4 linked regions of the Homo sapiens genome follow. The protein of the gene in region 1 purifies or fractionates together with the protein of each later gene. This does not show direct contact. Each region holds a gene or a part of one and is shown in the gene's direction. Other genes may lie near its edges. The genes, in order: PRKD3, IDH3G, FUCA1 and ALDH5A1.

The links.
Region 2: the proteins of PRKD3 (region 1) and IDH3G purify together in Homo sapiens (affinity purification with mass spectrometry, with the first as the bait; one large-scale study listed by BioGRID). This does not show direct contact.
Region 3: the proteins of PRKD3 (region 1) and FUCA1 purify together in Homo sapiens (affinity purification with mass spectrometry; one large-scale study listed by BioGRID and IntAct). This does not show direct contact.
Region 4: the proteins of PRKD3 (region 1) and ALDH5A1 purify together in Homo sapiens (affinity purification with mass spectrometry; one large-scale study listed by BioGRID and IntAct). This does not show direct contact.

Annotation. Positions count from the first base shown.
Region 1 is NC_000002.12:37,284,630-37,293,138, reverse strand, and holds part of PRKD3 (serine/threonine-protein kinase D3), read left to right. Parts: coding exon 1-6; intron 7-199; exon of another isoform or gene 200-217; intron 218-2,139; coding exon 2,140-2,271; intron 2,272-3,625; coding exon 3,626-3,783; intron 3,784-6,769; coding exon 6,770-6,962; intron 6,963-8,509. UniProt on the Homo sapiens protein: Converts transient diacylglycerol (DAG) signals into prolonged physiological effects, downstream of PKC. Involved in resistance to oxidative stress.
Region 2 is NC_000023.11:153,784,463-153,790,160, reverse strand, and holds the end of IDH3G (isocitrate dehydrogenase [NAD] subunit gamma, mitochondrial isoform a precursor), read left to right. Parts: intron 1-336; coding exon 337-449; intron 450-2,025; coding exon 2,026-2,086; intron 2,087-2,205; coding exon 2,206-2,338; intron 2,339-2,563; coding exon 2,564-2,697; intron 2,698-3,007; coding exon 3,008-3,110; intron 3,111-3,213; coding exon 3,214-3,360; intron 3,361-3,711; coding exon 3,712-3,806; intron 3,807-3,888; coding exon 3,889-3,949; coding exon of another isoform or gene 3,950-4,012; exon of another isoform or gene 4,013-4,187; coding exon 4,188-4,289; 3' UTR 4,290-4,393; downstream 4,394-5,698. Other genes in the region: SRPK3 (SRSF protein kinase 3), read right to left, coding at 4,641-4,825, 4,988-5,080, 5,158-5,227, 5,304-5,411. UniProt on the Homo sapiens protein: Regulatory subunit which plays a role in the allosteric regulation of the enzyme catalyzing the decarboxylation of isocitrate (ICT) into alpha-ketoglutarate.
Region 3 is NC_000001.11:23,848,392-23,856,900, reverse strand, and holds part of FUCA1 (tissue alpha-L-fucosidase precursor), read left to right. Parts: intron 1-2,340; coding exon 2,341-2,541; intron 2,542-8,061; coding exon 8,062-8,252; intron 8,253-8,509. UniProt on the Homo sapiens protein: Alpha-L-fucosidase is responsible for hydrolyzing the alpha-1,6-linked fucose joined to the reducing-end N-acetylglucosamine of the carbohydrate moieties of glycoproteins.
Region 4 is NC_000006.12:24,535,038-24,542,416, forward strand, and holds the end of ALDH5A1 (succinate-semialdehyde dehydrogenase, mitochondrial isoform 2 precursor), read left to right. Parts: 3' UTR 1-2,170; downstream 2,171-7,379. UniProt on the Homo sapiens protein: Catalyzes one step in the degradation of the inhibitory neurotransmitter gamma-aminobutyric acid (GABA).

The DNA of each region.
Region 1 (8,509 bases):
TTTCAGGTAAGTAAGTGGCTTTTTAGAGTGATTGCCTTTTCCCCTCAAAGAGCCTAATTTTCTGTACTAAATGCTGCAATTCGATTATATTTAGTCTTTGTATTATTGTTACTTAATTTCTTTCATCTCTAATAATGGTCACCATATGATTTTTCCTTTCAGGCATGTTATATCACCATTAAGAAAGAAAAATACCTGGCAACGGTGGCTCACACCTGTAAGCCCAGCACTTTGGGAAGCTGAGGCGGGAGGATTGCTTATCTCAGGAGTTTGAGACCAGCCTGAGCAGCATACCTCGTCTCTACTAAAAATTTAAAAAAAAAAAATTAGCCAGGCATGGTCACATGCAACTGTAGTCTTAGCTACTTGGGAGGATAAGGTGGGAGGATTGCCTGATCCTGGGAGGTTGAGGCTGCAGTGGGCCATGATCACACTACTGCACTTCCGCCTGGACAACAGAGCGAGACTCGTCTCTTTAAAAAAGCAAAAGAAAGGCCTGGCGCGGTGGCTCACGCCTGTAATCCCAGCACTTTGGGAGGCCGAGGCGGGCGGATCACGAGGTCAGGAGATCAAGACCATCCTGGCTAACAAGATGAAACCCCGTCTGTACTAAAAATACAAAAAAAATTTGGCCAGGCGTGGTGGTGGGCGCCTAGTCCCAGCTACTGGGGAGGCTCAGGCAGGAGAATGGCGTGAACCTAGGAGGTGGAGCTTGCAGTGAGCCGAGATCGCACCACTGCACTCCAGCCTGGGCAACAGAGTGAGACTCTGTCTCAAAAAAAAAAAAAGGAAAAAATCAGGATAGGAAAATAAACTGAATTACTTGAATGTTACTAAGCTTAGGAAATTATTTGGTCTGAAAGAAATATACTCTTCTCTGAGTCAAAGAAATAAAACAGTTACACTGAAATTCTGTTTTTTCCCCTTCCCCCACCCCCATTTCTGTAAAGAGCATAAAAGAAGAAAATTGGGGTTTAGAAAAGAGAATCAGGAAAAAAAGAAGTAATGAAGATATGGAAGAGGAAATTACAATGCTGGTTATTTCTGTGGCTTTAAAATTAAAAATGCTCTTTCCCTTTTTGTCCCACTGGGCTTTTTTCTACCTTTCACTTTTTCCACCTCACGCATTCTTGCCATACGTTGTTTTTTAATTCCCACTATTTGCCATCTCATCCTGCAGCAATGTGGGCAAGATAATAAGGAGTGAAAAGGAAGAAAGAATGCCATAATAATGCACATAGTAGGTCTGCAGTACTTTTTGTTTGGCAAGTAGGAGAACTGATGGAAGAAAGGAAGCAAGCTGGCCAGCCATGGGTCAGAGCCCTGCTACCAAGTTCCCTTTTCTCAAATTCACCTTTGAGCCTTTTCTTGAGATCCTCTCTGTCCTTATTAGTCCCCACTCCTCTCATCTTATATTTCTGATTCTCTCATTCATCTCACTCCCTGCTACACTGATCATTCATCTTCTATACAACAACCCCAAACCATCTCTATATTTCCCAATCCTTGCCCTCCTCTTCATTCCTGAGGAGTTTCACTCCCTGTCTCACCTGGAAGTCCTGCTCACATCTCTTCCTTCTCTACTCTGGACTCCATCAGACTACTTGCAGGTTGAGGTGAGAGGAAGTTCCTTGGGTCTACTGTCCCGACGTTCACTAAGGGGAAAGGAGTTTCTTTCTCATATCCACTAGGACTGTGGAGAACAAACAGACAAGTATATCCTGGGATCCTAAATTAGGACTCAGTATCTTTTTCCACAGAAACGTTTCCATAAATTGAAGTTAAGTTCCATAGTAGTTTTTACTTTAGTGTTCTATTTCCCACTGTGTAAGTTAAGCAGTTTTTAATTGGTTAAAGTAACCTAATGTCTGTTTGTAATCTTGTCATTATGAGAAAATGCTGTTGGAGTTCCAAATAACTAACCTATGACCTACTTCTGGAGCTCAAATGATGAGAAGTAAATGGACTTGCTAAACTAGAGTTTGAAATCACAATATTAAATAATTTACTTTTATGGTCCAGTGCAACTTTCAGAGAAAAAATGATTCTGTGTACTTTGACATAAGTGAATGTGTGAGCATTCTTAATCTCATCGCAGTACAAATACAACGTGTATTGTAATACTTTTCTTTTTTAAAGCTTTAGCCACAGTAGAAGACTTCCAGATTCGTCCACATACTCTCTATGTACATTCTTACAAAGCTCCTACTTTCTGTGATTACTGTGGTGAGATGCTCTGGGGATTGGTACGTCAAGGACTGAAATGTGAAGGTGTGTGTTCTAAAATTTTTGTGGTCATTTGAAATAAGATTCCACATTTGCATTTTTTATTATCAGTGAAAAAGCAAGATGACGAGCTGTTGACTAGGGTGGTAACGAGGATTTAGAATTGGAGAGATCAGGACTCTCATTTTATCTCTGCCACCTACTTCATATTCTTGGGCAAATTACTAAACCTCTTAAGATTAATTTCTCGTAAAATACATTCTGCCCCACTGGTTTCATAAAGAGTAAACGGTTAAATCAGGTAATAGGGTTAAATATTTAGTACAAAATAATGGCTCCATAAATATTCATGTTGTTTTTTGTTTTTAAAAGTTTTCTTGGCCAGGCACGGTGGCTCACACCTGTAATCCTAGCACTTTGGGATGCCGAGGCTGGTGGATCACCTGAGGTCAGGAGTTTGAGACCAGCCTGGCCAACATGGCGAAACCCTGTCTCTACTAAAGATACAAAAACTTAGCCGGGCGTGGTGGCGGATGCCTGTAATCCCAGCTACTCGGGAGGCTGGGGCAGGAGAATCGCTTGAACCTGCCTGGGTGACGGAGGTTGCAGGGAGCCGAGATTGCACCATTGCACTCCAGCCTGGGTGAAAGAGCGAAACTCTGTCTCAAAAAAAAAAAGTTGTCTCTTACATACAACTAAATTGTCAAATTTGTTCTGAATTAGAATTGCTAGGAGTAGGACACAGGTGCACATTTCTGATGAAGAAACAGTCTTCTAAGGTGGAGGGTCAATCAACTTTTTCTGTAAAGGGACAGAGAGTAAATGTTTTAGACTTTGTTGGCCATATGGTCTCTGTCATGATTTAACTCTGCTATTACAGTATGAAACCAATCATAGACAATATGTAAACGAATAGATATGGTTGTGTTCCAATAAAACTTTATTTAGGGACATTGAAATTTGAGTTTCATAAAATTTTCATGTCACAGGAGGAATTTGGTACAGAGGCCATAGTTTGCTAACTAGTGCTTTAAGGCAGTGGTTCTCAAACTGTATTGTGCATCGTAAAACACACTTTGCTGGGCCTCATCCCCGTAGTTTCTAATTCAGTAGATCTGGGGTGGAGCCTTGTAATTTACATTTCTAACAAATTTCCAGGTGGTTGCCTTAGGGACCACACTTCAAGAACCACTGCCCTAGCTGACTTATCCTTTTTACACATTTCCTTTTCTTCTTGAATTCATTAGCTTCCACTTAGCCTGCTGTCTGGGTTCTTAATTAGGATAGGTATGGCTAACAGAAAATATGTTAAATAAAAGAAGCAGTGGTTTTTATGTATCACACTTAAATAGTAAATTTTTTTTTAAATCTTATATTTTACCTTGTAAAATATGTTTAGGCTGTGGATTAAATTACCATAAACGATGTGCCTTCAAGATTCCAAATAACTGTAGTGGAGTAAGAAAGAGACGTCTGTCAAATGTATCTTTACCAGGACCCGGCCTCTCAGTTCCAAGACCCCTACAGCCTGAATATGTAGCCCTTCCCAGTGAAGAGGTACGTATTCTAAGGTAATAGACATTTTAGTAGTAGTTATTCTCTGTGTTTCTACAGGGTGTATGACATCACTCTAGAACATAATTTATATGCTAAAGAATGGTAATGTTCCTACACTTAAGAAACATAAAATGTAGTAATGGAGACAGGACTTACCGGTAGTAATGAATTGCATTTTGTACACCTTGGGATGGTATTATGGCTTGTACCACTGCTTTAGCCTTCTAGTCAGTATCCTGGCTCCTGGTCTCCATACTTAAATCTTTTTTTTTTTTAATTTTTTTTTTAATTTTTGTTTTTTTGAGATGGAGTCTTGCTCTGTCGCCCAGGCTGGAGTGCAGTGGCACGGTCTCTGCTCACTGCAACCTCCGCCTCCTGGGTTCAAGCAATTCTCCTGCCTCAGCCTCCCAAGTAGCGGGGATTACAGATGCGTGCCACTACACCCAGCTGATTTTTGTATGTTTAGTAGAGATGAGGTTTCACCATGTTGGACAGGCTGGTCTTGAATTCCTGACCTCGTGATCTGCCCGCCTCGGCCTCCCAAAGTTCTGGGATCGCAGGCATGAGGCACTGCTATCTGCAGATCTGTATACAGATGAGACAGTTGAGACACAGAGCAGCTAAGTGACTTGTGTGAAGTCAGAGAGCAAATTAGTAAGAGATAGTGGAATTAAACCCAGATCTCATTATTAATAAATCAGTGATTTTTTTTCCTAATACAGTGTACCTCTCAAGGGCAAAGGCAGTAGATCCAGGAAAAAAGAAATAACTCCCTTGTACATTTCATAGTATTTGAAATGACTTCCATCTGTAGGTTGTAATCTTATTATTTAGTTTTTTCTGTAACTTCTCTGATCTTCTGTAAATTAATGGCAAAATCAAGGCCTTGTCTTGGTACTGTGATCATAATATTTTGCTAAGTTAAGACACCAGAGTAAAAGCTTTTGAAATCCTTTCACAAAAATTCCATCTTCTCTTACTGCTTAGCCCTAGTGTGAGATTTTTAAAGGATAAAAAGAGTGCTGCGGCATAAAGGACTGAAAATGAGGGGTTGGTATAAACCTACAGAAGAGCCTGGAAAAGATTAGTAGGAAAAAGTTAGTGCATCTTATACACTGAACTGCACAGAGAACTTACCTAGGAATGAGGACAGTAGAATAGAGGTATGTCAAGAGCCCCACAAATGATGCTGTTACGCCACCTATGCCCAGTTGAGTATTACTAGATTAGGAAATAGCAGAAGGACAGAGCAAGTGGATAAGGTGTTACATTTTTCATTAGTTTATATTTTATCTTGAACATGAAAGCTCCTTAGGGAAGTATAAGAAGTGCAGTTACATGTCTGAATTGGTTAGATTGTTCAGGGTATTTTTAAACAAGTAGAACTTGTAGCATGGAAGGGCTTTCAGGGTTTACTTTAGTCAGTTCAAGCATAGTCTCAAAAAGAAGAACTTTATTTTCCAACTGTTTGGGTTTTTCTACCAGGTGAACAAAAAGCAAAATTAAAGAAGGCATGAATTAAAAATTTTTGTAACCTGAGGGGTAAGTAGATTTTGGTAACTATGACCCTTTCTATATGAAGGGAATAATCAAACTAAATTATAGATCACCCAGTTCAATGTGGCTCATTTCATTCATTCAACACACATTCACCGATTATTGTATGCCAGGCCCTGTTATATACTAGGGACACAAAATTGAATAAAACATAATCCAAATACTCAAGCACAAAATCCTAATACCCAACTACCATCTAGCTATATGAACAGATTTTGCTGTACCTGCTTGCATCCTCACTGCCAGAACTGATGTCCTGAGATCTTTCAGCTGCCTTCTATAACTAGTCATGTTTGTAATTCAGAGAAGTTGGGTAATTCTACATTAATATGTTCAACCAAGGGAAGGAAAAGAAGTCAGAAAAAAACAAGAGACAGAGAAGTGCAAGGGAGAAGTAAGGGGAGGAGAAAAAAGAAAAAAAAGGGAAGAAAAGGAAAAGAAAAGGACAAAACAACTGGTTGGAGAAGAGCACTATAAAATGCCTCAGATTGATAGTGTAGGCAGGTATTTTTCTTTTTCTTTTTCTTTTTCTTTTTTTTTTTTTTTTTTTTTTTTTTTTTTTTTTTTTGAGATGGAGTTTCGCTCTTGTTGCCCAGGCTGGAGTCCAATGGCATGATCTCGGCTTACCGGAACCTCCACCTCCTGGGTTCAAGCGATTCTTCTGCGTCAGCCTCCCGAGTAGCTGGGATTACAGGCATGCACCCCCACGCCTGGCTAATTTTGTATTTTTAGTAGAGACGGGGTTTCTCCATGTTGGTCAGGCTGGTCTTGAACTCCTGACCTCAGGTGATCCGCCCACCTCGGCCTCCCAAAGTGTTAGGATTACAGGCGTGAGCCACCACGCCTGGCCAGAAGACCAGGCAGAAAACCAACTAGCTAGGTTCTGGAATAGTCTCCAAAATGGGTAAACAAAGTTTACTTCTTCTTAAAGCTGAATTACTGAAACTTGTTTTAATTAGTTTTGTATCTGCCATTGTTTATCATTATTAATTAGACTTAAAATGTATGTATATATTTTAGTATTAAGATAAATTTGAAAATCTAAAATGTGTTTCAAAATATATTCAGATGTCACATTCAGTAATGCAAAATGAGCAGCAATAATACTTTCTTCATTTATTTGTTTTAAAGTTTGTGTATTTGATTTGTAAAGTGCTGAAATGTGCCTGGCAAATAATCATCAGTGAATATATACCTGAGAATTAACATATCTTAGATGTTTTTAAGCATAAATATTAGCAAAAAGAATCTGCATTTTTCTCATTCAAAGATTGGTAAATTAAACATTGCAAAGGAAACTGCTGAGAACAACATTTTTAGAGTTTTTTGGCTTTAGTGTTTGAAATAAATGATTCTTGTGGTTAAGCTCTGCTCCCACTACTCTGTTTTTAATATTGACTTACACTTATGAAAATTACTTATGTTATAGTCACATGTCCACCAGGAACCAAGTAAGAGAATTCCTTCTTGGAGTGGTCGCCCAATCTGGATGGAAAAGATGGTAATGTGCAGAGTGAAAGTTCCACACACATTTGCTGTTCACTCTTACACCCGTCCCACGATATGTCAGTACTGCAAGCGGTTACTGAAAGGCCTCTTTCGCCAAGGAATGCAGTGTAAAGGTAGGATTAGGTGTTTTCCCTAATTAAAATTTATGTCTGTTTTTGTTATTATATATAGGCTTAAAATATTTATATTTCAGAAGCATTAGCCAAAGAAATTATTCTCATAATTGTTATATAAAGGAAAGAGAAATATAAACAAAATATAAATGTGTGTGTAAACTACTATTACTACTATCTGCAGTGTGTGTTAGGTGCCAGGCACTATAGTAGAACAGTAAACCTTTACATGCTCAGTCTTCAAAGCAATTGTATGTGAATTATGCTTTTGTTAATATACTAGTAGTAATAGGAGTTACTATTACTATTAACTACTAATAGTAATAGGAGTACTAGTAATAGGAGTTAGTAGTAATAGGAGTCATATTTCATTTTATAGACATAGATTAGGTAACTTGCTTAAGATCATGTAGCTAGTAAACAGAAAAACTAGAATGTGGATCTCTGAGGATGGCTTCTTCACCTGTATGCTTATCACTTCCCAATACAGAATAGCTAGTAGGCAGCAAAGCTGATACTTGAGGTTTTATGTCTTTTTGATTCCAGAGCCAGACACTAAACAAAATAAAAATAACGCTTTCCTCTTTTCATTAAACATTTATTACACACACATATAAGCATACTGCAAGAGTTTTGGGTTTTTTTTGTTTTTAAGTATGTAGTTTGGAGAATTATACAAAAACTGTCATTCCCGAGAATAATCACCCTGAAATAGGTAGGACGTAATAAAAGCTACTAAAATTATGATAGGGACCCACCCGTATTTGGATACTAACCCAGCACACTTCTATAGTATTCTCAAAACATCTCTTAATGAAACAAGTTTTTAACAGCATACTGGAATAATTATTTGCTTATAGTTATATAATGCTTTTATGCTTTTTAAAGATGATTTTATCTTTTTGTCTCATACCTTCTCAGCAATGCTGTACAGTAGAAACTTTTCACAGTAGAGTGAAAACTAAAATAGAATGTAAATGTCTTAGATTATTAGTCATTGAGCCAGGATAGGATATAAGTAGTCTAACTATAATCTTATATACTTTTTTCATGTAATTAGCAGTTCTTGGTATTGTACTTTTTATATAGTAGAAGTATTTGTGGAATTGAATTATCAAGTGATCTAAATAAAACATTAGGGTTGAGGGTTTTGTAACAAGAAATTCTTGCTTACAAGACAGAGTAAGATAATTGTATATAAGCTTAAGCATATAAGAAAATAAAGCTTTTCTGAGGGGGGAGGGATAGCATTAGGAGATATACCTAATGTTAAATGACGAGTTAATGGGTGCAGCACACCAGCATGGCACATGTATACATATGTAACTAACCTGCACGTTGTGCACATGTACCCTAAAACTTAAAGTGTAATTAAAAAATAATAATAATAATAAAATAAAGCTTTTCTTGACAGTGTATGATAGCACACAAGAACATTAAATGGGGAATAGATTATACATTTGTTGTCAGGTATTTGATAACTATTAGGCATTATAACATGATGAAATTTTATTTCAACAGCTTGCTTTGAATATGAGTTACTACAT
Region 2 (5,698 bases), on another chromosome or scaffold:
CCAGGGGGCCCTGAGGACTTTGTGCCAAGAGGGGCATTGCGCCCAGAAGCACTCGGTGAGGCCATGGCAAGACGACCTGTAAGCCCAGGCCTTGCGTCCCATGGCCTGTGATCCCGCCAGACTGGCCTGGGCTCGGGGAAGGTGGCACCAGTCCTGCCACAGTGTGCATTGTGGAGTTCAAGCGTGTCCCCATCAGTCAGTGAAGGTGGGCCCAGTCCCTTCTCAGTCAGAGCCAGGTCAGGGCAGGTAGCAACAGGAGAGAGGTAGCCTGGGCAGGCTTCCTGGAGGAGGTGCGGGGGGGTCTGGGCCAGCCTCCCTGACCCTGCCGTGCCTCAGGCACGCATGTGTACCAGTGGACTTTGAAGAGGTGCACGTGAGTTCCAATGCTGATGAAGAGGACATTCGCAATGCCATCATGGCCATCCGCCGGAACCGCGTGGCCCTGAAGGGTGAGCTCCAGGGCCAGGGGCCAGGATGGGGCCCTAGGTGTGATTTCTTTCTTGCTTTCTTCCTTCGTTTCTTGCTTACTTGCTCGCTTGCTTGCTTTCTTGCTTGCTTTCCTGCTTTCTTGCTTGCTTGCTTTTTTGCTTTCTTGCTTTCTTTCTTGCGTTCTTTCTGAGATGGGGTCTCGCTCTGTCGCCCAGGCTAGAGTGCAGCGGTGTGATCTCGGCTCAGTGCAACCTCTGCCTTCCAGTTTCAAGCGATTCTCCTGCCTCAGCCTCCCGAGTAGCTGAGATTACAGGCGCCCGCCACCACGCCCAGCTGATTTTTGTATTTTCAGTAGAGAGTGGGTTTCACCATGTTGGCCAGGCTGGTCTTGAACTCCTGACCTCGTGATCTGCCCGCCTCAGCCTCTCAAAGTGTTGGGATTACAGGCGTGAGCCGTCGTGCCCAGCCCCTGTGATTTCTTTTACCTCCCTCTGAGCTGACTCTTGTGGGGCCCCACGGCTCTGATTTCAGGGCTTGTCTGGCTAGAGAGGACCCTCGTGCTTGGAGACTGGGTGGACGCCTCCTCGGGCCTGTTTGCGCTGCGATGCTGGGATTCGAGTGAGAGCAGCTGTGTGTGAGCCTGTCCAGTGACGGGCTCCCTGATGGGTTCCCTCCCACCCCTCCTTCCCTCCTGAGACAGTCCTCTCTGCTGGGGTCAGCTTTGACCCTCAGCATCTTTCTTCACAAACCAGGTATCACAGAGATGCAGTTCCGACCCTCTGCCTGGCTCCTCGGCTGCAGCCAGCCTGGAGGTGGATGGCACAGCCCAGGCAGGGATTCTTGGGGCTTCACTTGAGGTCCTTAAACTACTTCCATTGCTCATTTTGCACACTCAGCCCATTACTTGCACTGTGTGAGGAGCGTGTGAGCAAAGATGAACCCAGGGGGAGCCCCAGGCCCTGGCAGTCAAGTAGAGGGGCCTTTGTGCCAGCCACAGGGGACCCCCGCGCTGTGAGTGGAGCAGTCTGGGTGGGGTACCGCTCACCAGCAGGCGGCCTCTGCTTGGCGCCCTCTGACTGCTGTCTCCAGCGGCCACTGGCCTCTGCTTCCCTTCCTCCAGGTGTCCTGGGTCGTAGGGTAGGGTCCGGCCAATCCGTGGCCTTCTCCAGGCAGCCCCCGCCTGCCTCTGAGTGTGGTGCCTTGATGCGGGGGCTTGGCAGTAACACCGCCAAGGCCACCTTGCTAGCTCCAGCCTGGCCGGCCAACCTGTTAGTAAAGAGTGGTCACTTTCTGTTGCTCCAGAGCCTGGATGGAGAATGGCATGGCTGCCTGGCTGGTTGCCAGCCTTTATTCATTTATTGACTTGTTCATTCCGTCGTTCAGGGGTTATTCATGGAGCACCTGCTGCACCAGGTGCCCTTCGAGATCCCTGAGCGTGTAGCCTCGTGGGGCTTAGGCTGGAAGTTGCATTCTAGCATTCTAGTGTTCAGGAAACATTTTTGCTCCCCAAGTCTTCTGACCCCGGCAGCCTTCAGCTGCCCTGCTGAGGTGGGGCGGGGATGGGCAGTGCCACTAAGCCTGTGTTGTGTTTTGTAGGCAACATCGAAACCAACCATAACCTGCCACCGTCGCACAAATCTCGAAACAACATCCTTCGGTGAGATCCGGGTGTGCGGGCTGGGGGCTTGGTGGGGCTAAGGTGGGGTGAGCCAGTGGAGTCTGGCTCCAGTCAGCCACCTGTCAGGCCTAGCAGCCTCTTTCTCCGTCCCCTCCCAGCACCAGCCTGGACCTCTATGCCAACGTCATCCACTGTAAGAGCCTTCCAGGCGTGGTGACCCGGCACAAGGACATAGACATCCTCATTGTCCGGGAGAACACAGAGGGCGAGTACAGCAGCCTGGAGCATGAGGTGTGCATGGGGGGCCCGAGATGAGCCCCCCCAGCGTCAAGATTAAGGGGAGAGCTTAAGGAACCAGGGACAGGTGTACCCTTAGAGGGCAGGGGCTGTGCCCGAGGGAGAAGCCAGAAATAGGCAGACAGGGTTGCTTCCCACGGTGGCCCGGTCGCGCCAGCTTGTTTGGCCAGTGCTGCTCTTCAGTAGCACATGGGTCTCTTCTCCCCATGCCCTCCTCAGAGTGTGGCGGGAGTGGTGGAGAGCCTGAAGATCATCACCAAGGCCAAGTCCCTGCGCATTGCCGAGTATGCCTTCAAGCTGGCGCAGGAGAGCGGGCGCAAGAAAGTGACGGCCGTGCACAAGGCCAACATCATGTATGTCCCCTGACCTCTCTGCGAGCAGTCCAGAAGCAGCTGCAGTGGCCTGCTTGGGCCTGCTCTGAGGGATTTGTGGTCCAAAAGCCCAGCTACCCACCGAGGTGCCACCCTAGGCGAGTGCCCTGTTGCCCTCGAGGCCTTGCCAGAACCCACACTTAGGGGAGGTGGGGTGGGATTCTGTCCATTTTGCTGGTGAGGGACAGGTTAGAATTCAGACCCCAGCCTCCTGGGGCCCTCTGCACGCCCCGTCCCTCTGGCTGACTGTTGCGATGGCCAAGCTGGTGTCCTATTCCTAACCCCCCACCAGGAAACTGGGCGATGGGCTTTTCCTCCAGTGCTGCAGGGAGGTGGCAGCCCGCTACCCTCAGATCACCTTCGAGAACATGATTGTGGATAACACCACCATGCAGGTATTAGCCTGCCCAGTGCTGTCCCCCTGCCCTGAGTGCCCTGGGCTTCTCTCACCCATGCTTCCGAATCTGCTCCTCAGCCAGCCCCCTCCTTGTCCCGCAGCTGGTGTCCCGGCCCCAGCAGTTTGATGTCATGGTGATGCCCAATCTCTATGGCAACATCGTCAACAATGTCTGCGCGGGACTGGTCGGGGGCCCAGGCCTTGTGGCTGGGGCCAACTATGGCCATGTGTACGCGGTGTTTGAAACAGTGAGTGCCGGTGGCAGTGCCGCGGCTTGCCGCCTTTCTCCTGTTCACAGACTTAGTGAGGCACACTCATCCCATCCGGTTAGCCCGTTCAAAATGCATGATTTAGTAGTTTTTTGGATATCCAGGGTTGTACTGCCGTCACCACCAGGTCATTCCAGAACATTTTCACCACCCCACGAGGAAAGCCTGTCCCCATAAGCTATCTGTCCCCACACCTTCCCCCAACCCCTGGCACCCGCTGGTGGGCTTTTGTCCCTGTGGAGTGGCTTCTTCTGGACGTGTCACAGGAGCAGAGTCACTGCCCGGCATCCTTCTGCCCTCCACCCACTCTCCTTCGTCTTGCCTCCCCAGGCTACGAGGAACACCGGCAAGAGTATCGCCAATAAGAACATCGCCAACCCCACGGCCACCCTGCTGGCCAGCTGCATGATGCTGGACCACCTCAAGTGAGTGGCTCCCAGTGCCCCGCAAGCCCCTGGCCAGCCCTCCGGGCCCCAGGGACTGAAGGCTGGCTGTCCCATCCTCTAGGCTGCACTCCTATGCCACCTCCATCCGTAAGGCTGTCCTGGCATCCATGGACAATGAGAATGTGAGGTTCCCCTCGCACCCTACCCTGCTGCCCCGCCCAGTCTCCCCCTGCAGCCTCCTGTAGCCCGCCTCATGCACTGACCACAGCCCCCAGGGGAGGATGGTACTGGATCTGGCCCCATCTTCTGGCCCTTAGCTGGTGCCACTTCCCTCCTGTGGCAATCCCAGTCCTGCACGTCACAGGAGACAGCGGGGGGTGGCAGGGCCTGGTGTGTGCCGAGCCTGCCTGTGTCCTACAGATGCACACTCCGGACATCGGGGGCCAGGGCACAACATCTGAAGCCATCCAGGACGTCATCCGCCACATCCGCGTCATCAACGGCCGGGCCGTGGAGGCCTAGGCTGGCCCTAGGACCTTCTTGGTTTGCTCCTTGGATTCCCCTTCCCACTCCAGCACCCCAGCCAGCCTGGTACGCAGATCCCAGAATAAAGCACCTTCTCCCTAGACTTGGCGTGGGCCTCCCTCACTCCAGGCACCGATGTTCAGTCCACACTTTATTAAGAAAGGAATACACACACTTTCTCCGAGAGCCCTCACGGGGGTCTCAGGCAGAACACGCTCTGAGAGCCGGGCCTGGCTCCAGCGTCTCTCTGCCCTGTGGTTGTGGAGAACTGGCGCCCAGCAGGGTGGTGGGAGCTGTCCCGCTTTTCCCTTAAGGCACGGAGAGCTGGAGGTGGAGCCACAGCCGGGCCTAGGGGTTGAGCCAGGGGTGCTGGAGGCAGTCAGCGGCACTGGCCCGCTTTTCGGGGATGTACTCCATCATGGGCAGCAGAAAGGCGCTGAACTGTGTGGCCTGCTCTAGGGGCCACTCGTACTTTTCCATGAGTACCTCGTACAGGCCCCAGTGCTTGAGATTGTGGATGTGCCGCAGCTCTCCTGCGGGCAGGCCAGCGGGCGTCAGGCTCTGTCCCTGTCTCTGGACCTGCCTTCTGCTTAGGCCCTGGCTCCTGGGACCCAGTGTTCCCTCTGTTGCAGAATCCAAGGTCCCCGTCCCACCCTCCCTGCAGCCACATGGCCTGAGGCTGCCCGGGCCCTCACCTCTCCGGTTGAAGAACTCCCGGGAATAGCGGCCTGAGAGGGCGAAGGCTGGGGGGATGTCCCCCAGAAGCTCCACTATGTGAGCGATGTGGTCTGTGGGCAGAAAGAGGAGGTTGGGGGCAGGCAGGCCGGGAGGCCGGGAGGCTGAGCCCAGAGCCCTCACCCCTTACCCTCATCACGACTGTAGTCTTCTCCAGAATGCGGCTCGAACAGGTAGTCACCAGTGGCCAGCTCGAAGGCCTGGAAGGGGGAGGAGGTGAGGCTGCTGGCTGGTGGGCTGCTGGCCCTGGGCACAGGGCAGCCCGGGCGGGCGTACCATGCAGGCTGTGCTCCAGATGTCTGCCGGGGGGCCGTATTCGGCGCCGATCAGCACCTCGACGGCCCGGTACTGCCGAGTCTGGATGTCTTCCGTGAAGTGCTTGTGCTGGAAGCAAGGGGAGCCCTGGGGACGGGCTGGGGCCAAGGCTGTCCTGCCCCCACGGACTCCTGCCCCACCCCGATCCGCCTACCCGAGGAGCTCAGTGGGGTTTGCTGTGAGCCTCGGGGTCCCCAGGTCCTCCAAGAGGGACAGGCCCAGTGATGTGAGGCTGAGGCTGATCCCTTCCTAGTGGCCCCTGCCCTTGGCCATGGCCCCAGTGCTGTTGACTGGGCAGGACCAGTGCCCACCCAGCCGACGGTTCACGTGCACTGCAGACTGGGGTAGGGCTCCCC
Region 3 (8,509 bases), on another chromosome or scaffold:
CCTGCCTCAGCCTCCCGAGTAGCTGGGAGTACAGGCGCACACCATCACACCTGGCTAATTTTTTGTATTTTTAGTAGAGACGGGGTTTCACCATGTTGGCCAGACTGGTCTTGAAACTCTTGACCTTGTGATCCACCCGCCTCAGCCTCCCAAAGTGCTGGGATTACAGGCGTGAGCCACCGCTCCCGGCCGGCCTCTCTTAAACAATAATTCCTAAGCAACCAGGACCTTCTGTGTGGGTGTGCCTCAACCCATCTTCACAGTAGCTTCGCAGACATATGGGGACTGTAGATTCTCCTTCATTTCTACCAGGATTTATTGAGAGCCGGTGCCGTAGCATGCCGCATGCTAAGCCTTGGAAATGCTGAATGAATGGTTTCTGCTCTTAGGGAACTACAGTCTGAAGAGAAAGACAGACATACAAACAAAGTACATTGTAGGGTGACCAGTATGATAGTAGAAGTATGTCCTGAGGTCTCCACAATCCATAGACACTGGTTCGAATGCCAAAGTGGAGGGTACTGCATTAGCTTCTGTGGGATGAAGGAGTGCATGGTTGTGTCTGTCCTTGACAGGCTGAGTGTACAGGGAGCGTTCACATCACCTGAGGACTCTGAGAAAGAGGAGGTGTGGCAAGGAGACACCTTTATTCACTCTGAGCCAGAGTCTGGGCACACTGTCACTTTTATCCCTCCCTCTCAAACCCCTGTGAGGTGGGTGATATTTGCCTTTGGATTTTGTTTGTTTGGTTGGTTTTGTTTGTTTGTTTTTATAGATAAGTAACTAACTTAAAAGGTAAAGTTACCTGCCTAAGACCCCTTGACTACTAGGTGGTGGAGCCAGCTATGAACCTCAAAGCCCTTGATAATCTTGTAACCAGGCATAAACTCTGATATGATGTCATATTGTAATTGTCCACATATCTGTCTCCTCTGCTAGTCTCTGCTGGATGGTTGAGGGCAAGACCTCTGTTTTATTCACCTTGGAGACCCAGTATCTGCCCACAGTGTGAGCCCCATGGTAGTTGTTGAGTAAATACTTATTGAATAAGCGGATGGGTAGGTGTTGAATGAAGAATTAGGATTGTTAATACCCCATTTTTCTCTGAAATGGCTTTTACATACCTGTTCTTGAATTGATCTTGAGTTGTCCTTTTCAATTCTGTGACCCATGATGCCCAGACATTGATAATCAAGTACCAGACATTGGATTGAACTAGTTACAAATAATGACTATTCTTCTATTTCTCTTTGGCACTTAACTAGCTTCCATAGGAGAAACTTCATACCAATGTGAATGACTCTAAAACAGGCAAGAAATGGGAATTTTAAACTTTTAATAAATCTCTTTTTGCCGTGATGAATTGAACATGGTTTCAGTTTTGTTTTTGTTTTTGTTTTTGAGACGGAGTCTCGCTCTGCTGTTGCCTAGGCTGGAGTGCAGTGGCACGATCTCGGCTCACTGCTACCTCCGCCTCCCAGGTTCAAGCGATTCTCCTGCCTCAGCCTCCCAAATAGCTGGGACTACAGGCATGTGCCACCATGCCCAGCTAATTTTTTGTATTTTTGGTAGAGACGGGATTTCACCGTGTTAGCCAGGTTGGTCTCTATCTCCTGACCTCATGATCTGCCTGCCTTGGCCTCCCAAATGGTTTCAGTTTTTATCTTGTATTGGCCACTCTGTTATAAAATATGCTGCATTTAACATTTACATTAAGATATTCCATGTATGATTTATCATTCTTCAGCTAAACCTTGAAGTAAGAAAAAGAATTTGCTATTTTTTTTTTTTTTGAGTGGGATTGTCTTAAGACTTTTTTTTTACGTAAGTAAGGCTGGGATTATATAGTTGGAAAACAGCCTGCCATGGGTTCAGATACCTGATTTGTAGTTCCAGCTTTTGAAACTGCCTAGGGGCATGGCCCCAGGCAGGTCCTCTCCTGTTCATTTCTCCTCTTATAGAAAAAGTGATTTACCAGATGATCTTTAAAGCAAGCTCTCCCAGCCCTGACATGTATCTCTGCAGCAGGGTTTCTCTACCTCAGTACTGTTGACATTTAGGGCTGAATATTTCTTTGCTGTGGGGGCTGTCCTGTGCATTGTAGGACGTTTAGTAACATCCCTGGTCTCTACCCACTAGATGGCATACCACCCCCGTTGTGACAATCAAAAATGTCTCTAGACTTTACCAAATGTCCCCTCCAGAGCAAAATTGCCCCCAGTTGACAGCCACTGCTCTAGACTAAGTTTCTTGCTTCCAAATAGAGCCTTACCAAAGTGTATTACATAAAGAAGTCAAGTGGTTTTACTCCTCATGACCAAATATTCTTTCCCTCCTTAGGATGAGGTGGTAGTAAATGACCGATGGGGTCAGAACTGTTCCTGTCACCATGGAGGATACTATAACTGTGAAGATAAATTCAAGCCACAGAGCTTGCCAGATCACAAGTGGGAGATGTGCACCAGCATTGACAAGTTTTCCTGGGGCTATCGTCGTGACATGGCATTGTCTGATGTTACAGAAGAATCTGAAATCATTTCGGTAAGAGCACCTTTGAGTTTTTTGTTTTTGTTTTTTTTTTTTTAACATGCAGTATGATTTATTTTATATAATGTTCAAAAGCTTGCAAAAACAGCATATTGTTTACAGATGCATATTTTGGAGGTAAAATTATGAAGAAAAGCGAGATCATTATAAACAAAATTTAGGAGGGGGCTGGGATGGAGAAGGGCATGCAAAAGGGCTTTAACGGTGTTGGTTGTAATCTATATCTTAAAGTGGGTGTGGGTAGTAGGGTGTCCAGTTTTTTATTTATTTATTTATTTATTTATTTATTCTTTATTGATCATTCTTGGGTGTTTCTCACAGAGGGGGATTTGGCAGGGTCATAGGACAATAGTGGAGGGAGGGTCAGCAGATAAACAAGTGAACAAAGGTCTCTGGTTTTCCTATGCAGAGGACCCTGCGGCCTTCCGCAGTGTTTGTGTCCCTGGGTACTTGAGATTAGGGAGTGGTGATGACTCTTAACGAGCATGCTGCCTTCAAGCATCTGTTTAACAAAGCACATCTTGCACCGCCCTTAATCCATTTAACCCTGAGTGGACACAGCACACGTTTCAGAGAGCACAGGGTTGTGGGTAGGGTCACCGATCAACAGGATCACAAGGCAGAAGAATTTTTCTTAGTACAGAACAAAATGAAAAGTCTCCCGTGTCTACCTCTTTCTACACAGACACGGCAACCATCCGATTTCTCAATCCTTTCCCCGCCTTTCCCCCCTTTCTATTCCACAAAACCGCCATTGTCATCATGGCCCGTTCTCAATGAGCTGTTCGGTACACCTCCCAGACGGGGTGGTGGCTGGGCAGAGGGGCTCCTCACTTCCCAGTAGGGGCGGCCGGGCAGAGGCGCCCCTCACCTCCCGGACCGGGCGGCTGGCTGGGCGGGGGGCTGACCCCCCCACCTCCCTCCCGGACGGGGCGGCTGGCCAGGCGGGGGGCTGACCCCCCCACCTCCCTCCCGGACGGGGCGGCTGGCCGGGCGGGGGCTGACCCCCACCTCCCTCCCGGATGGGGTGGCTGCCGGGCAGAGACGCTCCTCACTTACCAGACGGGGTGGCTGCCGGGCGGAGAGGCTCCTCACTTCTCATATGGGGCGGTTGCCAGGCGGAGGGTTTCCTCACTTCTCAGATGGGGCGGCTGGGCAGAGACGCTCCTCACCTCCCAGACGGGGTCGCGGCCGGGCAGAGGCGCTCCTCACATCCCAGACGGGGCGGCGGGGCAGAGGCGCTCCCCACATCTCAGACGATGGGCGGCCGGGCAGAGACGCTCCTCACTTCCTAGATGGGATGGCGGCCGGGAAGAGGTGCTCCTCACTTCCTAGATGGGATGGCGGCCGGGCAGAGACGCTCCTCATTTTCCAGACTGGGTAGCCAGGCAGAGGGGCTCCTCACGTCCCAGACGATGGGCGGCCAGGCAGAGACGCTCCTCACTTCCCAGACGGGGTGGCGGCCGGGCAGAGGCTGCAATCTCGGCACTTTGGGAGGCCAAGGCAGGCGGCTGGGAGGTGGAGGTTGTAGCGAGCGGAGATCACGCCACTGCACTCCAGCCTGGGCACCATTGAGCACTGAGTGAACCAGACTCCATCTGCAATCCCGGCACCTCTGGAGGCCGAGGCTGGCGGATCACTCGCAGTTAGGAGCTGGAGACCAGCCCGGCCAACACAGCGAAACCCCGTCTCCACCAAAAAAATACGAAAACCAGTCAGGCGTGGTGGCGCGCACCTGCAATCGCAGGCACTCGGCAGGCTGAGGCAGGAGAATCAGGCAGGGAGGCTGCAGTGACCCGAGGTGGCAGCAGTACAGTCCAGCTTCGGCTCGGCATCAGTGGGAGACCGTGGAAAGAGAGGGAGAGGGAGACCGTGGGGAGAGGGAGAGGGGGGAGAGGGAGAGGGAGAGGGGAGTTTTTTGTTTTTTTTAATGAAATGGGGTCTTGCTCTGTCATGCAGGCAATAGCGCAGTGGCACGATCATACCTCACTGTAACCTCAAACTCCTGGGGCTCAAGTGGTCCTCCCACCTCAGCCTCCTGAGTAGCTAGAACTACAGGTGTGCACCTCTACAACCAGCTAATTTTTAAATTTTTTGTAGAGACAGGGTCTTGCTATGTTGCCCAGGCTGGTCTCAAACTCCTGGCCTCAAGAGATCTAGCCTCAGCCTCCCAAAGCACTGGATTACAGGCATGAGCCATGGCAGCTGGCCTGAGTTCACTATTTTTTAACTATGGATCTCAAACCACTTTTTATTATTATTATTATTATTATTACCTTCTAACATACTATATGATTGATTTTAATTATTTTTTTCCTCTTTTTTTAAATTTTACTTTAAATTCTGGGATACAAGTGCAGAGTGTGCAGGTTTGTTTCATAGGTATACATGTGCCATGATGGTTTGTTGCAAACTATCAACCCGATATCTAGGTTTTAAGCCCCACATGCATTAGGTATTTGTCCTAATGCTCTCCCTCCCCTCACCCCCACATTCCAACAAGCCCTGGTGTGTGATGTTCCTCTTCCTGTGTCCCATGTGTTCTCATTGTTCAACTCCCACTTATGAGTGAGAACATGTGGTGTTTGGTTTTCTGTTCCTGTGTTAGTTTGCTAAGAATGATGGTTTCCAGCTTCATCCATGTCCCTGCAAAGGACATGAACTCATTCTTTTTTATGGCTGCAAAACCAGCTTTTTTATGTAAGAGTGATGTCCAGCTTCATCCATGTCCCTGCAAAGGACACATTCTCTTTTATGGCTGCAAAACCAGCTTTTTTATGTAAGAGTGATGGAAGTACTCTGGATAGAAGTGCAGGTCAATAGAACCCTTTTAAGGACATTGAATAGACTAACAGAAACCTGTCCTAAGGAAATAATTAGAGTTACACAAGAAAGTTGTGCAGAGGTCCTTCCCAGGATTATTTGTATGTATGTATGTATGTATGTATGTATGTATGTATGTATGTATGTGTATATTTATTTATTTATTTATGAACGAACTTCACTCTGTCACCCAGGCTAGAGTGCAGTGGTGCGATCTCGGTCTGCTGCAACCGCCGTCTCCCGGGTTCAAGCAATTCTCCTGCCTCAGCCTCCCGAATAGCTGGGAATACAGGCACGTGCCACCATGCCCAGCTTATTTTTGTGTTTTTAGTAGAGACAGGGTTTCTTCATGTTGGCCAGGCTTGTCTCGAACTCCTGGTAACCATAAAAATGTTGACAAATTTAATATGGGTTAATGTTTAGAGCACTGAATGAAAAAACAGTTACATATTGGCTGGGCACAGTGGCTCATACCTGTAATGCCAACACTTTAGGAGGCCAAGGTGGGAGGATCCTTTGAGGCCAGGAGTTCAAGACCAGCCTGGCCAAAATAGAAAGACCCCATCTCTATTATTATTATTATTTTTAATAAAGTTACATATTGGCTGGGCATGGTGGTGGCTCACACTTGTAACTCCAACACTTTGGGAGACCAAGACAAGAGGATTGCTTGAGGGCAGGAGTTTAAGACCAGCCTAAACAACATAGTGAGACCCCATCTCTATTTTAAAAAATAAAAATAAGTGGCCAGGCACGGTGGCTGACACCTGTAATCCCAGCACTTTGGGAGGCCAAGGAGGGTGGATCACAAAGTCAGGAATTCGAGACCATCCTGGCCAATGTGGTGAAACCCCGTCTCTACTAAAAAATACAAAAAAAATTAGCTGGGCGTGGTGGCACATGCCTATAATCCCAGCTACTCAGGAGGCTGAGGCAGGAGAATTGCTTGAACCCAGGAGGCAGAGGTTGCAGTGAGCTGAGATTGCGCCACTGCACTCCAGCCTGGGTGACAGAGCTAGACTCCGTCTGAAACAAAAATTTTTTTTAAATAATAATAAATAAATAAAATAAGTTACATATTATTACAACTATATAAAATTAACTACATAGGAAAAAGACTAGAAGAAGACATCAAAAGTTAATGGTGTGGTGTCACTTGGAGTACTGTAATGAATTCTTATAATGAATTCTTTAATTCTTTTTTTTTTTTTTTTGAGATGGAATTTCGCTCTTGTTGCCCAGGCTGGAGTGCAATGGCACGATCTCAGCTTGCTGCAACCTCCACCTCCCGGGTTCAAGTGATTCTCTTGCCTCAGCCTCCCGCATAGCTGGGACTACAGGTGCCTACCACTGTGCCCAGCTAATTTTTGTATTTTTAGTAGAGACAGGGCCTTCACCACGTTGGCCAGGCTGGTCTCAAACTCCTGACCTCAGGTAATCCACCTGTCCTGGCTTCCCAAAGTGCTGGGATTACAGGTGTGATCCACCATGCCTGTCTGAATTCTTCAAATTCTGTAATGAATTTAAAATTTTCTCTATATAACCTTAGTTTTTCTGAGCTGCCTGGATATGTATAATACCTGTTCAAGGTCACAGTAAAAACACACACACCCAAATCCCACTCCAGAAGTCTTAAAGAATGTATCTCTTGGCTGAGCACGGTGGCTCACACCTGTAATACCAGCACTTTGGGAGGCTGAGATAGGTGGATCACAAAGTCAGGAGTTCAAGACCAGCCTGGCCAACATAGTGAAACCCCATCTCTACTAAAAATACAAAAATTAACTGGGCATGGTGGTGCGCACCTGTAGTCCCAGCTACTCGGGAGCCTGAGGCAGGAGAATCACTTGAACCCAGGAGGCGGAGGTTGCAGTGAGCCGAGATTGTGCCACTGCACTCCAGCCTGGGAGACAGAGCAAGAGTCCGTCTCAAAAAAAAAAAAAAAAAAAAAAAAAGAACGTATCTCTTTATAGCAGTTTTCCCAAAGGGGCAGCATGTTCATTTATATAGCCCAATGCGTAAGGAATGTCCTGAAATTCTCAGCTTCCCTGCCCACACCTCATGTTTCTGGGGCATGACCCTTCCCACTGCACTCAGCACCATGAGAAGTACAGTGTCACAGGAAGTGCTCCATGGCCACTCCCTGAAATTCAAGTTAATATAATATAGCCTGATTTTTCATTTACTCACATGAGCCTAACCTGCTTTTATAGTGACAAAAATATATATAGAGAGAGAATTTTTAGCTCAGGTGCGGTGACTCATGCTTGTGATCCCAGCACTTCGGGAGGCCAAGGCAGGCAGATCACCTGAGGTCAGGAGTTTTGAGACTGGCCTGGCCAACGTGGTGAAACCCTGTCTCTACTAAAAATAGAATGATATTAGCTGGATGTGGTGGCGCATGCCTGTAATTCCAGCTACTCAGGAGACTGAGGCAGGAGAATCGCTTGAACAGGGAGGTGGAGGTTGCAGTGAGCCGAGATGCAGTTGAGCCAAGATCACGCCATTGCACTCTAGCCTGGGCGACAAGAGTGAAACTCCAGCTCAAAAAGAAAAAAAAAAAAATTAAAACAGCAGAGGATATTTAAAAAACAGAGTGTGCCCTAGATTCTTTTTCTTCTCTGTCTATTTTAAGCATGATGCCAGGCTTGGCATTCATAGCTAGACTTTCATTGTTTCTGTTCTCTCCAGGAACTGGTTCAGACAGTAAGTTTGGGAGGCAACTATCTTCTGAACATTGGACCAACTAAAGATGGACTGATTGTTCCCATCTTCCAAGAAAGGCTTCTTGCTGTTGGGAAATGGCTGAGCATCAATGGGGAGGCTATCTATGCCTCCAAACCATGGCGGGTGCAATGGGAAAAGAACACAACATCTGTATGGTGAGTCTTGTCTTCTGTTGTGTGTAAGAACAGAACAGTGCCCCATCCGGAACTGGTATCTCCTTGGGTCCACAATGTCACAAGCCAGGCTGGAAGTTGCCTTGAGAAAATCCAGAAGGTTATTTTCCTATAAAATTTGTACCCCATTTGAGTTATGTCTCAGGCTACTTGGTTATCTTTGACTAGTGAAGGGAGAGAGTGGGTTTGGTGAAAAGGGAAGGAGCAACAAAGCATCAGTCAATTTATTGAGATTATTA
Region 4 (7,379 bases), on another chromosome or scaffold:
AATCTTAAACAGATGCAAATCCAATTAGGCGGCCAAGTAGGTGGAGACGAAGCACCTTCCTTTCCCCATCTCTGTCTGTGTAGACTCCACTTACATCTTGTGGTTATTCTGGGTTGTGGAAGGAAAATGTGAATGAAAGTAGTGCTGGATGCAATTACTCCTGAACCCCACCTAGGATTTAACATCCCTCATTGAGCCACTGGGAAGCTATGGTTGAGTAACTAAAGGTCTGGCAAGACCCTGGGCACACAGGGAGCTGCCTAGCATCTGGCCTGGAGTGTACTAGCCACATTCCCAAGGTCCCAAGGAGAAGGAAGAGCTGAAATTCATCTCCTAGTGACAGTGCCCCGGCCCTGTCAAGAATCACATACTCAGCATTTTGACAGTTAATGTCTTCTCTTTATTTGTGTAGTTTTTAGGTGGTTTTATATAACATTTTAATTACTTGTGATTTAGATGTATCCATCCTTTTTCTATTAAGAATACAAATGCTGGGCTGGGCACAGTGGCTCACGCCTGTAATCCCAACACCTTGGGAGGCCAAGGCAGGCAGATCACGACATCAGGAGATCGAGACCATCCTGGCTAACACGGTGAAACCCCGTCTCTACTAAAAATACAAAAAAAATTAGTCGGATGTGGTGGCAGGTGCCTGTAGTCCCAGCTACTCTGGAGGCTGAGGCAGGAGAATGGCGTGAACCCAGGAGGCGGAGCTTGCAGTGAGCAGAGATCACGCCACTGCACTCCAGCCTGGATGACAGAGCGAGACTCCGCCTCAAAAAAAGAATACAAATGCTCCAACATTATTTTTTATAACTCTGGATTACCGATGCTGAGATGTGTGCAGGAATACTTCCAAATAAATTTTTAACATTGTAAGCCAGTAGATTCTTTGGCTGGGTGGCAAATTTTGAGTCTTCTTGCATATTTGGCTCATGGGTTCATAAATTGAGGCCAGAGACTCATTGTATATCCTTGATCAATTTTCTAATTAAAGGAAATAGCTTATTGTTTAGTAAAATGGCCCTTGGTTGTGGGAAGAAAGAGAATTATTTTTAACTGAACGTTTTTGTTGTTTTTTAAATAAAGTAGCCATATGTAACGGGATTTTAAAAATATATACATTTTACAACATGGACTAGAAAAGGACCATTAGATCAGGGGTTGGCAAACTATGGCCCACGAATCAAACCTGGCCTGCCACCTGTTTTTATACAACCTGTGAGCTAAGAATGGTTTATATGTTTTCAAATGATTGGGCAGAAAATCAAAAGAAGAACAATATTTCATGACACCTGAAAATTCTATGAAATTCAGATTTCAGTGTCCATAAACAAAATGTTATTAGAGCATAGCCACACCCATTCATTTATGGTATTGTCTGGGACTGCTTTCTTGGCAGAGTTGAATAGTTGGGACAGGGACAGTATAGCCTGCAAAGCCTAAAAGATTTACTACTTGTCTCCTTAAAGAAAAAGTTTGCCAGCTCCTGATCTAGACCAAGAGGGAGATATTGACCTTACTTGCATTTATCCGGCATTATTTCAACACCTCCTGTGAAGAAAGTACTTTTCTGGCATAGCTACCGTGAGTTCTCAGCAGGAACTTCCCAGCGATGATAATGTACATGAAATTAGCCACGTAACAAGAGTCTATTTGCCTTGAAAAAACAATTATCCTTGAACTTCCTCCAGCTATGCAGGGATTCTCATTAAAGAGCTGATCTGCATCTGTTTATCCATTTTAGTAGCTTTTAAATATGATTTTATGTGAAGTGCCATTTCTTTATTCTACTAAAGAGAGACAGCAGAAATAAAGATCAGAAGCAAATGTGAGCAAATCTGTTTTACTGTTAACTTCAATTATGAACTTGAAATTGTGCCACATGACTTTTTCCTCTAAAAACTGGATCCTAGTGTTTTAATTACCTGTGTGCAGCTATTTTAAATAGCATTTTACTTGAATAATATGTATGTTGTCATTGTTTCATGCTATACTTTGTGGGATAAAACTTGGGAATGAGTGTGGTAAGAAATTTATAAAGTTTTGCTTTTAAAACGTGGACATAACTCATTTTTCTAGTTTTTGACAATTGTGTGTTTTAGTGTCTAGTCTGCAGAGAGCTGTGTGATTAATAAACGTGGAATTAACAGAATTTCCTCTCCCTGTATTAAGGTGTCTGGTTGTGCTTTTTTCCCCCTACTTGGTGATCTTTTGAGTTTTTATTGGATGATATTAGACCAGTTTGCATTTGTGTAAATAGCACTCCCTCCCCCAGAGAGCCGTAATCAGTGAGTGCCTTGGGGAAGGAGCCAGCATGTGAAATGATGTGCCCTAAAACCCAGAGAAGGGCCTGTCCATGGTGTGCGCTTATAGAATGTTTGCTAAGCTGAACTGAGAATTTACCTGGTTTGCAGAGGTGGCGGTCACAGAAAGGTGTATAGGCCAGCCGTCACAGATTGGCCTATCTCTCTCTCCTACACGCCCCACTGTTATGACTTCCTGGGCTCAAACAAGCCTCTCACCTCTGCCTCCTGAGTAGCTGGGACCACAGGCACCTGCTACCACACTCAGTTAATTTTTCTTTCATTTTTTGAACAGTCAGGGTCTCACTGTGTTGCCCAGACTGGTCTCAAACTCCTGGGTTCAAGCCACCCTCCCGCCTCAGCCTCCCAAAGTGCTGGGATTATGGGAGTGCACCATTGTAGCCAGCCCTCACCATAATTTAGAACACAGACAGCACTGCTGCCCAGTGGTTAGTGGACATTTTTGCAAATGTCGTCTCACATTTTACAATCACGTATTGCTCGACAACAGAGATATATTCTGAGAAATGCGTCATTAGGCAGTTTCGTCCTTGTACGAACACTGTAGAGTACTTACACAAACCTGGATGGTACAGCCTCCTACACAGCTAGGCTATACGGTCTAGCCTATTGCTCCTAGGGCTACAAACCTGCACAGCATGCTACTGTACTAAATACTGTAGGCAGTTGTAAGACAATGGCAAGTATTTATGTATATAAACATAGAAAAGGTACAGTAAAAATCAAGTATAAAAGATTTAAAAATTACACTTGTAAAAGGCACTTACCGTGAATGGAGCTTGCAGAACTGGAAGTTGCTCTGGGTGAGTCAGTGAGTGACAGTGAATGTGAAGGCCTAAGGTATGACTGCACACTACTCTAGACTTTACAAACACTCTACACTTAGGCTACACTACATTTATTAAATAATATTTTTCTTTCTTCAATAATAAATTACCCTTAGCTTACTGTAACTTTTTACTTTATAAATTTTTAAAATTTTTTAACTTTTTGACTCTTTTGTGATCACACTTAGCACTTAAAGCACAAACTAATTGCACAACTGTATAAAAATATATTCTTTTTTTATATCCTTGTTCCACAAGCTTTTTTATATTTTAAATTTTTTTAAACTTTTTTGTTAAAAACTAAGACACAATTACACACATTAGCCTAGGCCTACAAAGGGTCAGATTCATGGATATTTCTATCTCCCACCTCCTCATCTTGCCCCGCTGGAAGGTCTTCAGGGGCAATAACACGCAGGGACAGCTGGGCCCAGTGGCTCACGCCTGTAATCCTAGCACTTCAGGAGTCCAGGGCAGGCGGATCGCTTGAGCCCAGGAATTTAAGACCAGCCTGGGCAACACGGCGAAACCCTGTCTCTACAAAAAATACAAAAATTAGCCAGGTGTGGTGGCACGTGCCTGTCGTCCCAGCTACTCAGGAGGCTGAGGCAGGAGGATCGCTTGAACCCGGGAAGTCAAGGCTGCAGTGAGCCGTGACCGCACCACTGTACTCCAGCCTGGGTGACAAGGTGAGACCCTGACTCAAAAAAGAAAAAAACGTGGAGCTAGGATAACAAGACCTACCTGAGGTTCTTAGGAGATGTCATGCATCAGAAATATGTCCATGGTGGTTTGCTTGCTTTCCTTTTTCATCATAGATTTGCTTGTAAGCAGACAGTGCATAAAGAACATTCCTCTCTGTTAATGAAACCCTTTTGGTGTTGAGGGGCCCATGTTTTCAGAATTTTTAAGGCGCTTACTGAGGTCTGCAAAAACTTCTCAGCTCTTCACTGTGAATTTTCATGGGGATTCTTTTTCTTCTGCAGTTTTTTCTTCCTTGCCTCTTCTTGAGGTATGTGTTCCTGTTCCAGTTCCAACAACTCCTCATTAGTCAGTTCCTCAGGAACCACCTGTAGGAGCTCCTCAATGTCTTCTTCTTCCACCCCCAGGTTAAAATTGTTTGCCATCTCAACCACAGCCTTGTTGGTTTTTGCAACCTCCTTGTCCTTGGCAAATCCTTTGAAATCACGGATGAACCTCTTGAGTGTCTTCTTCCAGATGTCATTTATACGTTCCTTGGTAACATCACCCCAAGCCCAAGCAAGGGTCCTGATGGAGTCGTAGATGTAATCCTTTCAGAATTGCATCAGCGTCTTCTCCGTGTCTTCCTTTGTTGCAGTAATAACCTGAGCAAAGCTGCTCCTCCTCAGGCAGTGGGCCTTAAAAGCTGCTGTAACTCCTTTACCCATTGGTTGGTAATCCTTAATCTCTTGTTTCAAGATCAGTCACTTGATGTGGCCTCTTACTGGCAACAATAGCCGTGGATTTTCTATGACAAAGGGACCGTGATGAACAAAGCAACACGAGATTAATTGAAGCACAAGAGAAAATAATGCAATCAAGAGGCACAGTAAACAAGACACGTTTATACTGCTGGTATAACCCAGTATTTCTTTTGTTTTGTTTTGTTTTGTTTTTGAGACAGGGTCTCACTCTGTAATTTAGGCTGGAGTGCACCGGCACCATCACAGCTCACTGCAGCCTTGACCTCCTGGGCTCAAGAGATCCTCCTACCCCAGCCTCCTGAGTAGCTGAGACTACAGGCATTCGCCACCACACCCAGCTAACTTTTAAACATGTTTTTTATAGAGATGGAGTCTCACCATGTTGTCCAGGCTGGTCTCAAACTCCTGGGCTCAAGCAATCCTCCAGCCTCAGCCTCCCAAAGTGCTGGGGTTACAGGAGTGGGCTACTGCACCCAGCCACATACTGTTTTACAATAAACTGTTTTTAATAAGTAGAAGGAGTACACTGTAAAATAACAATGAAAAGTACAGTATAATAAATACGTAAACCAGTAGCATAGTCACTTATTATATACTGTACATAATTGTATGTGCTATACTCTTATACAACTGAGAATGCAGGTTTGTTTACACCAGCATCACCACAAACATGATTAATGCATTGGGCTGCATTGGACTTTATGATGGCTACGACATCACTAGGTGACAGGAACTTTTCAGCTCCATTATCTCATGGGTCCATAAATCATATATGCAGTCCATCACTGACAGAAATTTCACTATGCCAGGCATGACCGTATAAGCCTATGTGCTCTCTTCCTGCTGCAATAAAGTCTCAGTCCTGCAACTCTGGGTTCATCATCTTTAGGAGAATGGAGGTGATAATACTCTCCATGTAGGCTTCAAATAAAGGAAGCTTTGCTGCTTGCTAATCTCAACTCAACAAGAGAGGCTCTAGGGACCAATTAGTTGGAGAAATGGTGACTTTGTTTCTTTTTTTTTTTTTCCTTTCTTAACTTTGTTCCTGATTTTAATGGAAATGCTTATTTTACTGTTGATATGTGGATCTGGCCTTTCCTTCTCAACATCTTTAAACTTTTAATTTTGAAATAATTATAAATTCATAGGAAGTTGCAAAGATAATGCAGAGTCCCGTGTACCCTTCACCCAGTGGTTCGCTTATTACCTATGTAATACAATTATCAAAACCAGGAAACTGATACCAGTGCAAAACTGTTAATCCAGGCCTTATTCCAATTTCACTCGTTTTTATGTGCACTCATTTGTATGTGAGTGTTTGTACACCTCTACCTAATTTGATCACATCAATAGTTAGATTTGTGTAGGCAGCACCTGAATCAAGATACAGAACTGTTTCATCTCTACCTAGGAAATCCCTGGCAGTACCTCTTCATAAATGACTTTGAAAGTAACTTGGCAAGATTGGTAGCTTTTTTAAACTTTCCTTTCACTATTATATACATGCAAAAAAAAAGGATACATAATTGAATAAGTGAATCGCTCAATGAATTCTCAGAAGACCGAGATCAAGGTGTCGGCAGGTTTGGTTTCTCCTGACGCCTCTCATCTTGGCTTGTAGATGGCCGCCTTCTTGCCATGTCCTCCCATGATCTTTCCTCTGTGCCTGCGTGCCCCAGATGTCTCTCTGCAGGTCCTAATCTCTTCTTCTAATAAGAAAACCAGTCGATTGGATTAGGACCCATCTTAATGGCCTCATTTTACTCATTTTAACTTAATTAATCACATCTCTTTAAAGGCTCTATCTCCAAATACATTTCAGGTACTGGGGGTTAGAGCTTCAACCTATGAATTTTGACATAACACGATTAATTTAGTCAGCTGGGCGCAGTGGCTCACGCCAGTAATCCCAGCACTTTGGTAGGCCGAGGCTGGTGGATCATTTGAGGTCAGCAGTTTGAGACCGGCCTGGCCAACATGGCGAAACTCCATTTCTACTAAAAATACAAAAATTAGCCCGTCATGGTGGTGGGCGCCTGTAATCCTAGCTACCTGGGAGGCTGAGGCAGGAGAATCGCTTGAACTGGGGAGGAAGAGGTTGCAGTGAGCCAAGATCATGCCACTGCACTCCAGCCTGGGTGACAGAGTGAGACTCCATCTCAAAAATAATAATTTAGCCCACAACACTGAAGGAATATTTTTTTAAATGCCTTTATTTTCTGGCTGGTCATGGTGGCCCATGCCTGTAGTCCCAGTACTTTGGGAGGCTGAGGCGGGCGGGTCATTTGAGGCCAGGAGTTCGAGACTAGCCTTGCCAACATGGCGAAACTCCGTCGCTACTAAAAATATAAAAAGTAGCTGAGTGTGGTAACACACATCTGTAATCCCAGCTACTCAGGAGGCTGAGGCACAAGAATCACTTGAACTGCCAGGAGGCAGAGGTTGTAGTAAGCGAGATTGCACCACTGCGCTCCAGCCTGAGCAACAGAGCAAGACTGTCTGAAAAAAAATAAAATAAAAATTCCTTTAGTTTCAGTAATGGAAAGTCATCCTTGTTGAAATTATAAAGATTTTGTTCCTTTACTTAGCCTAGTATTTGCTCTCTCAGTAAATACACAACTCTTACAGGATTGAAGATGATCCAGGAGCCACGTAATTAGTTTAACTACAATACCCCATTCCCATTCTCATACTTCAACAAGCATTTATCTCAACAAAATTATGTGAACAAATATGAACTTGAAAGAGCCAATCCTTTAAGATAAATCCCCATTGGTTAA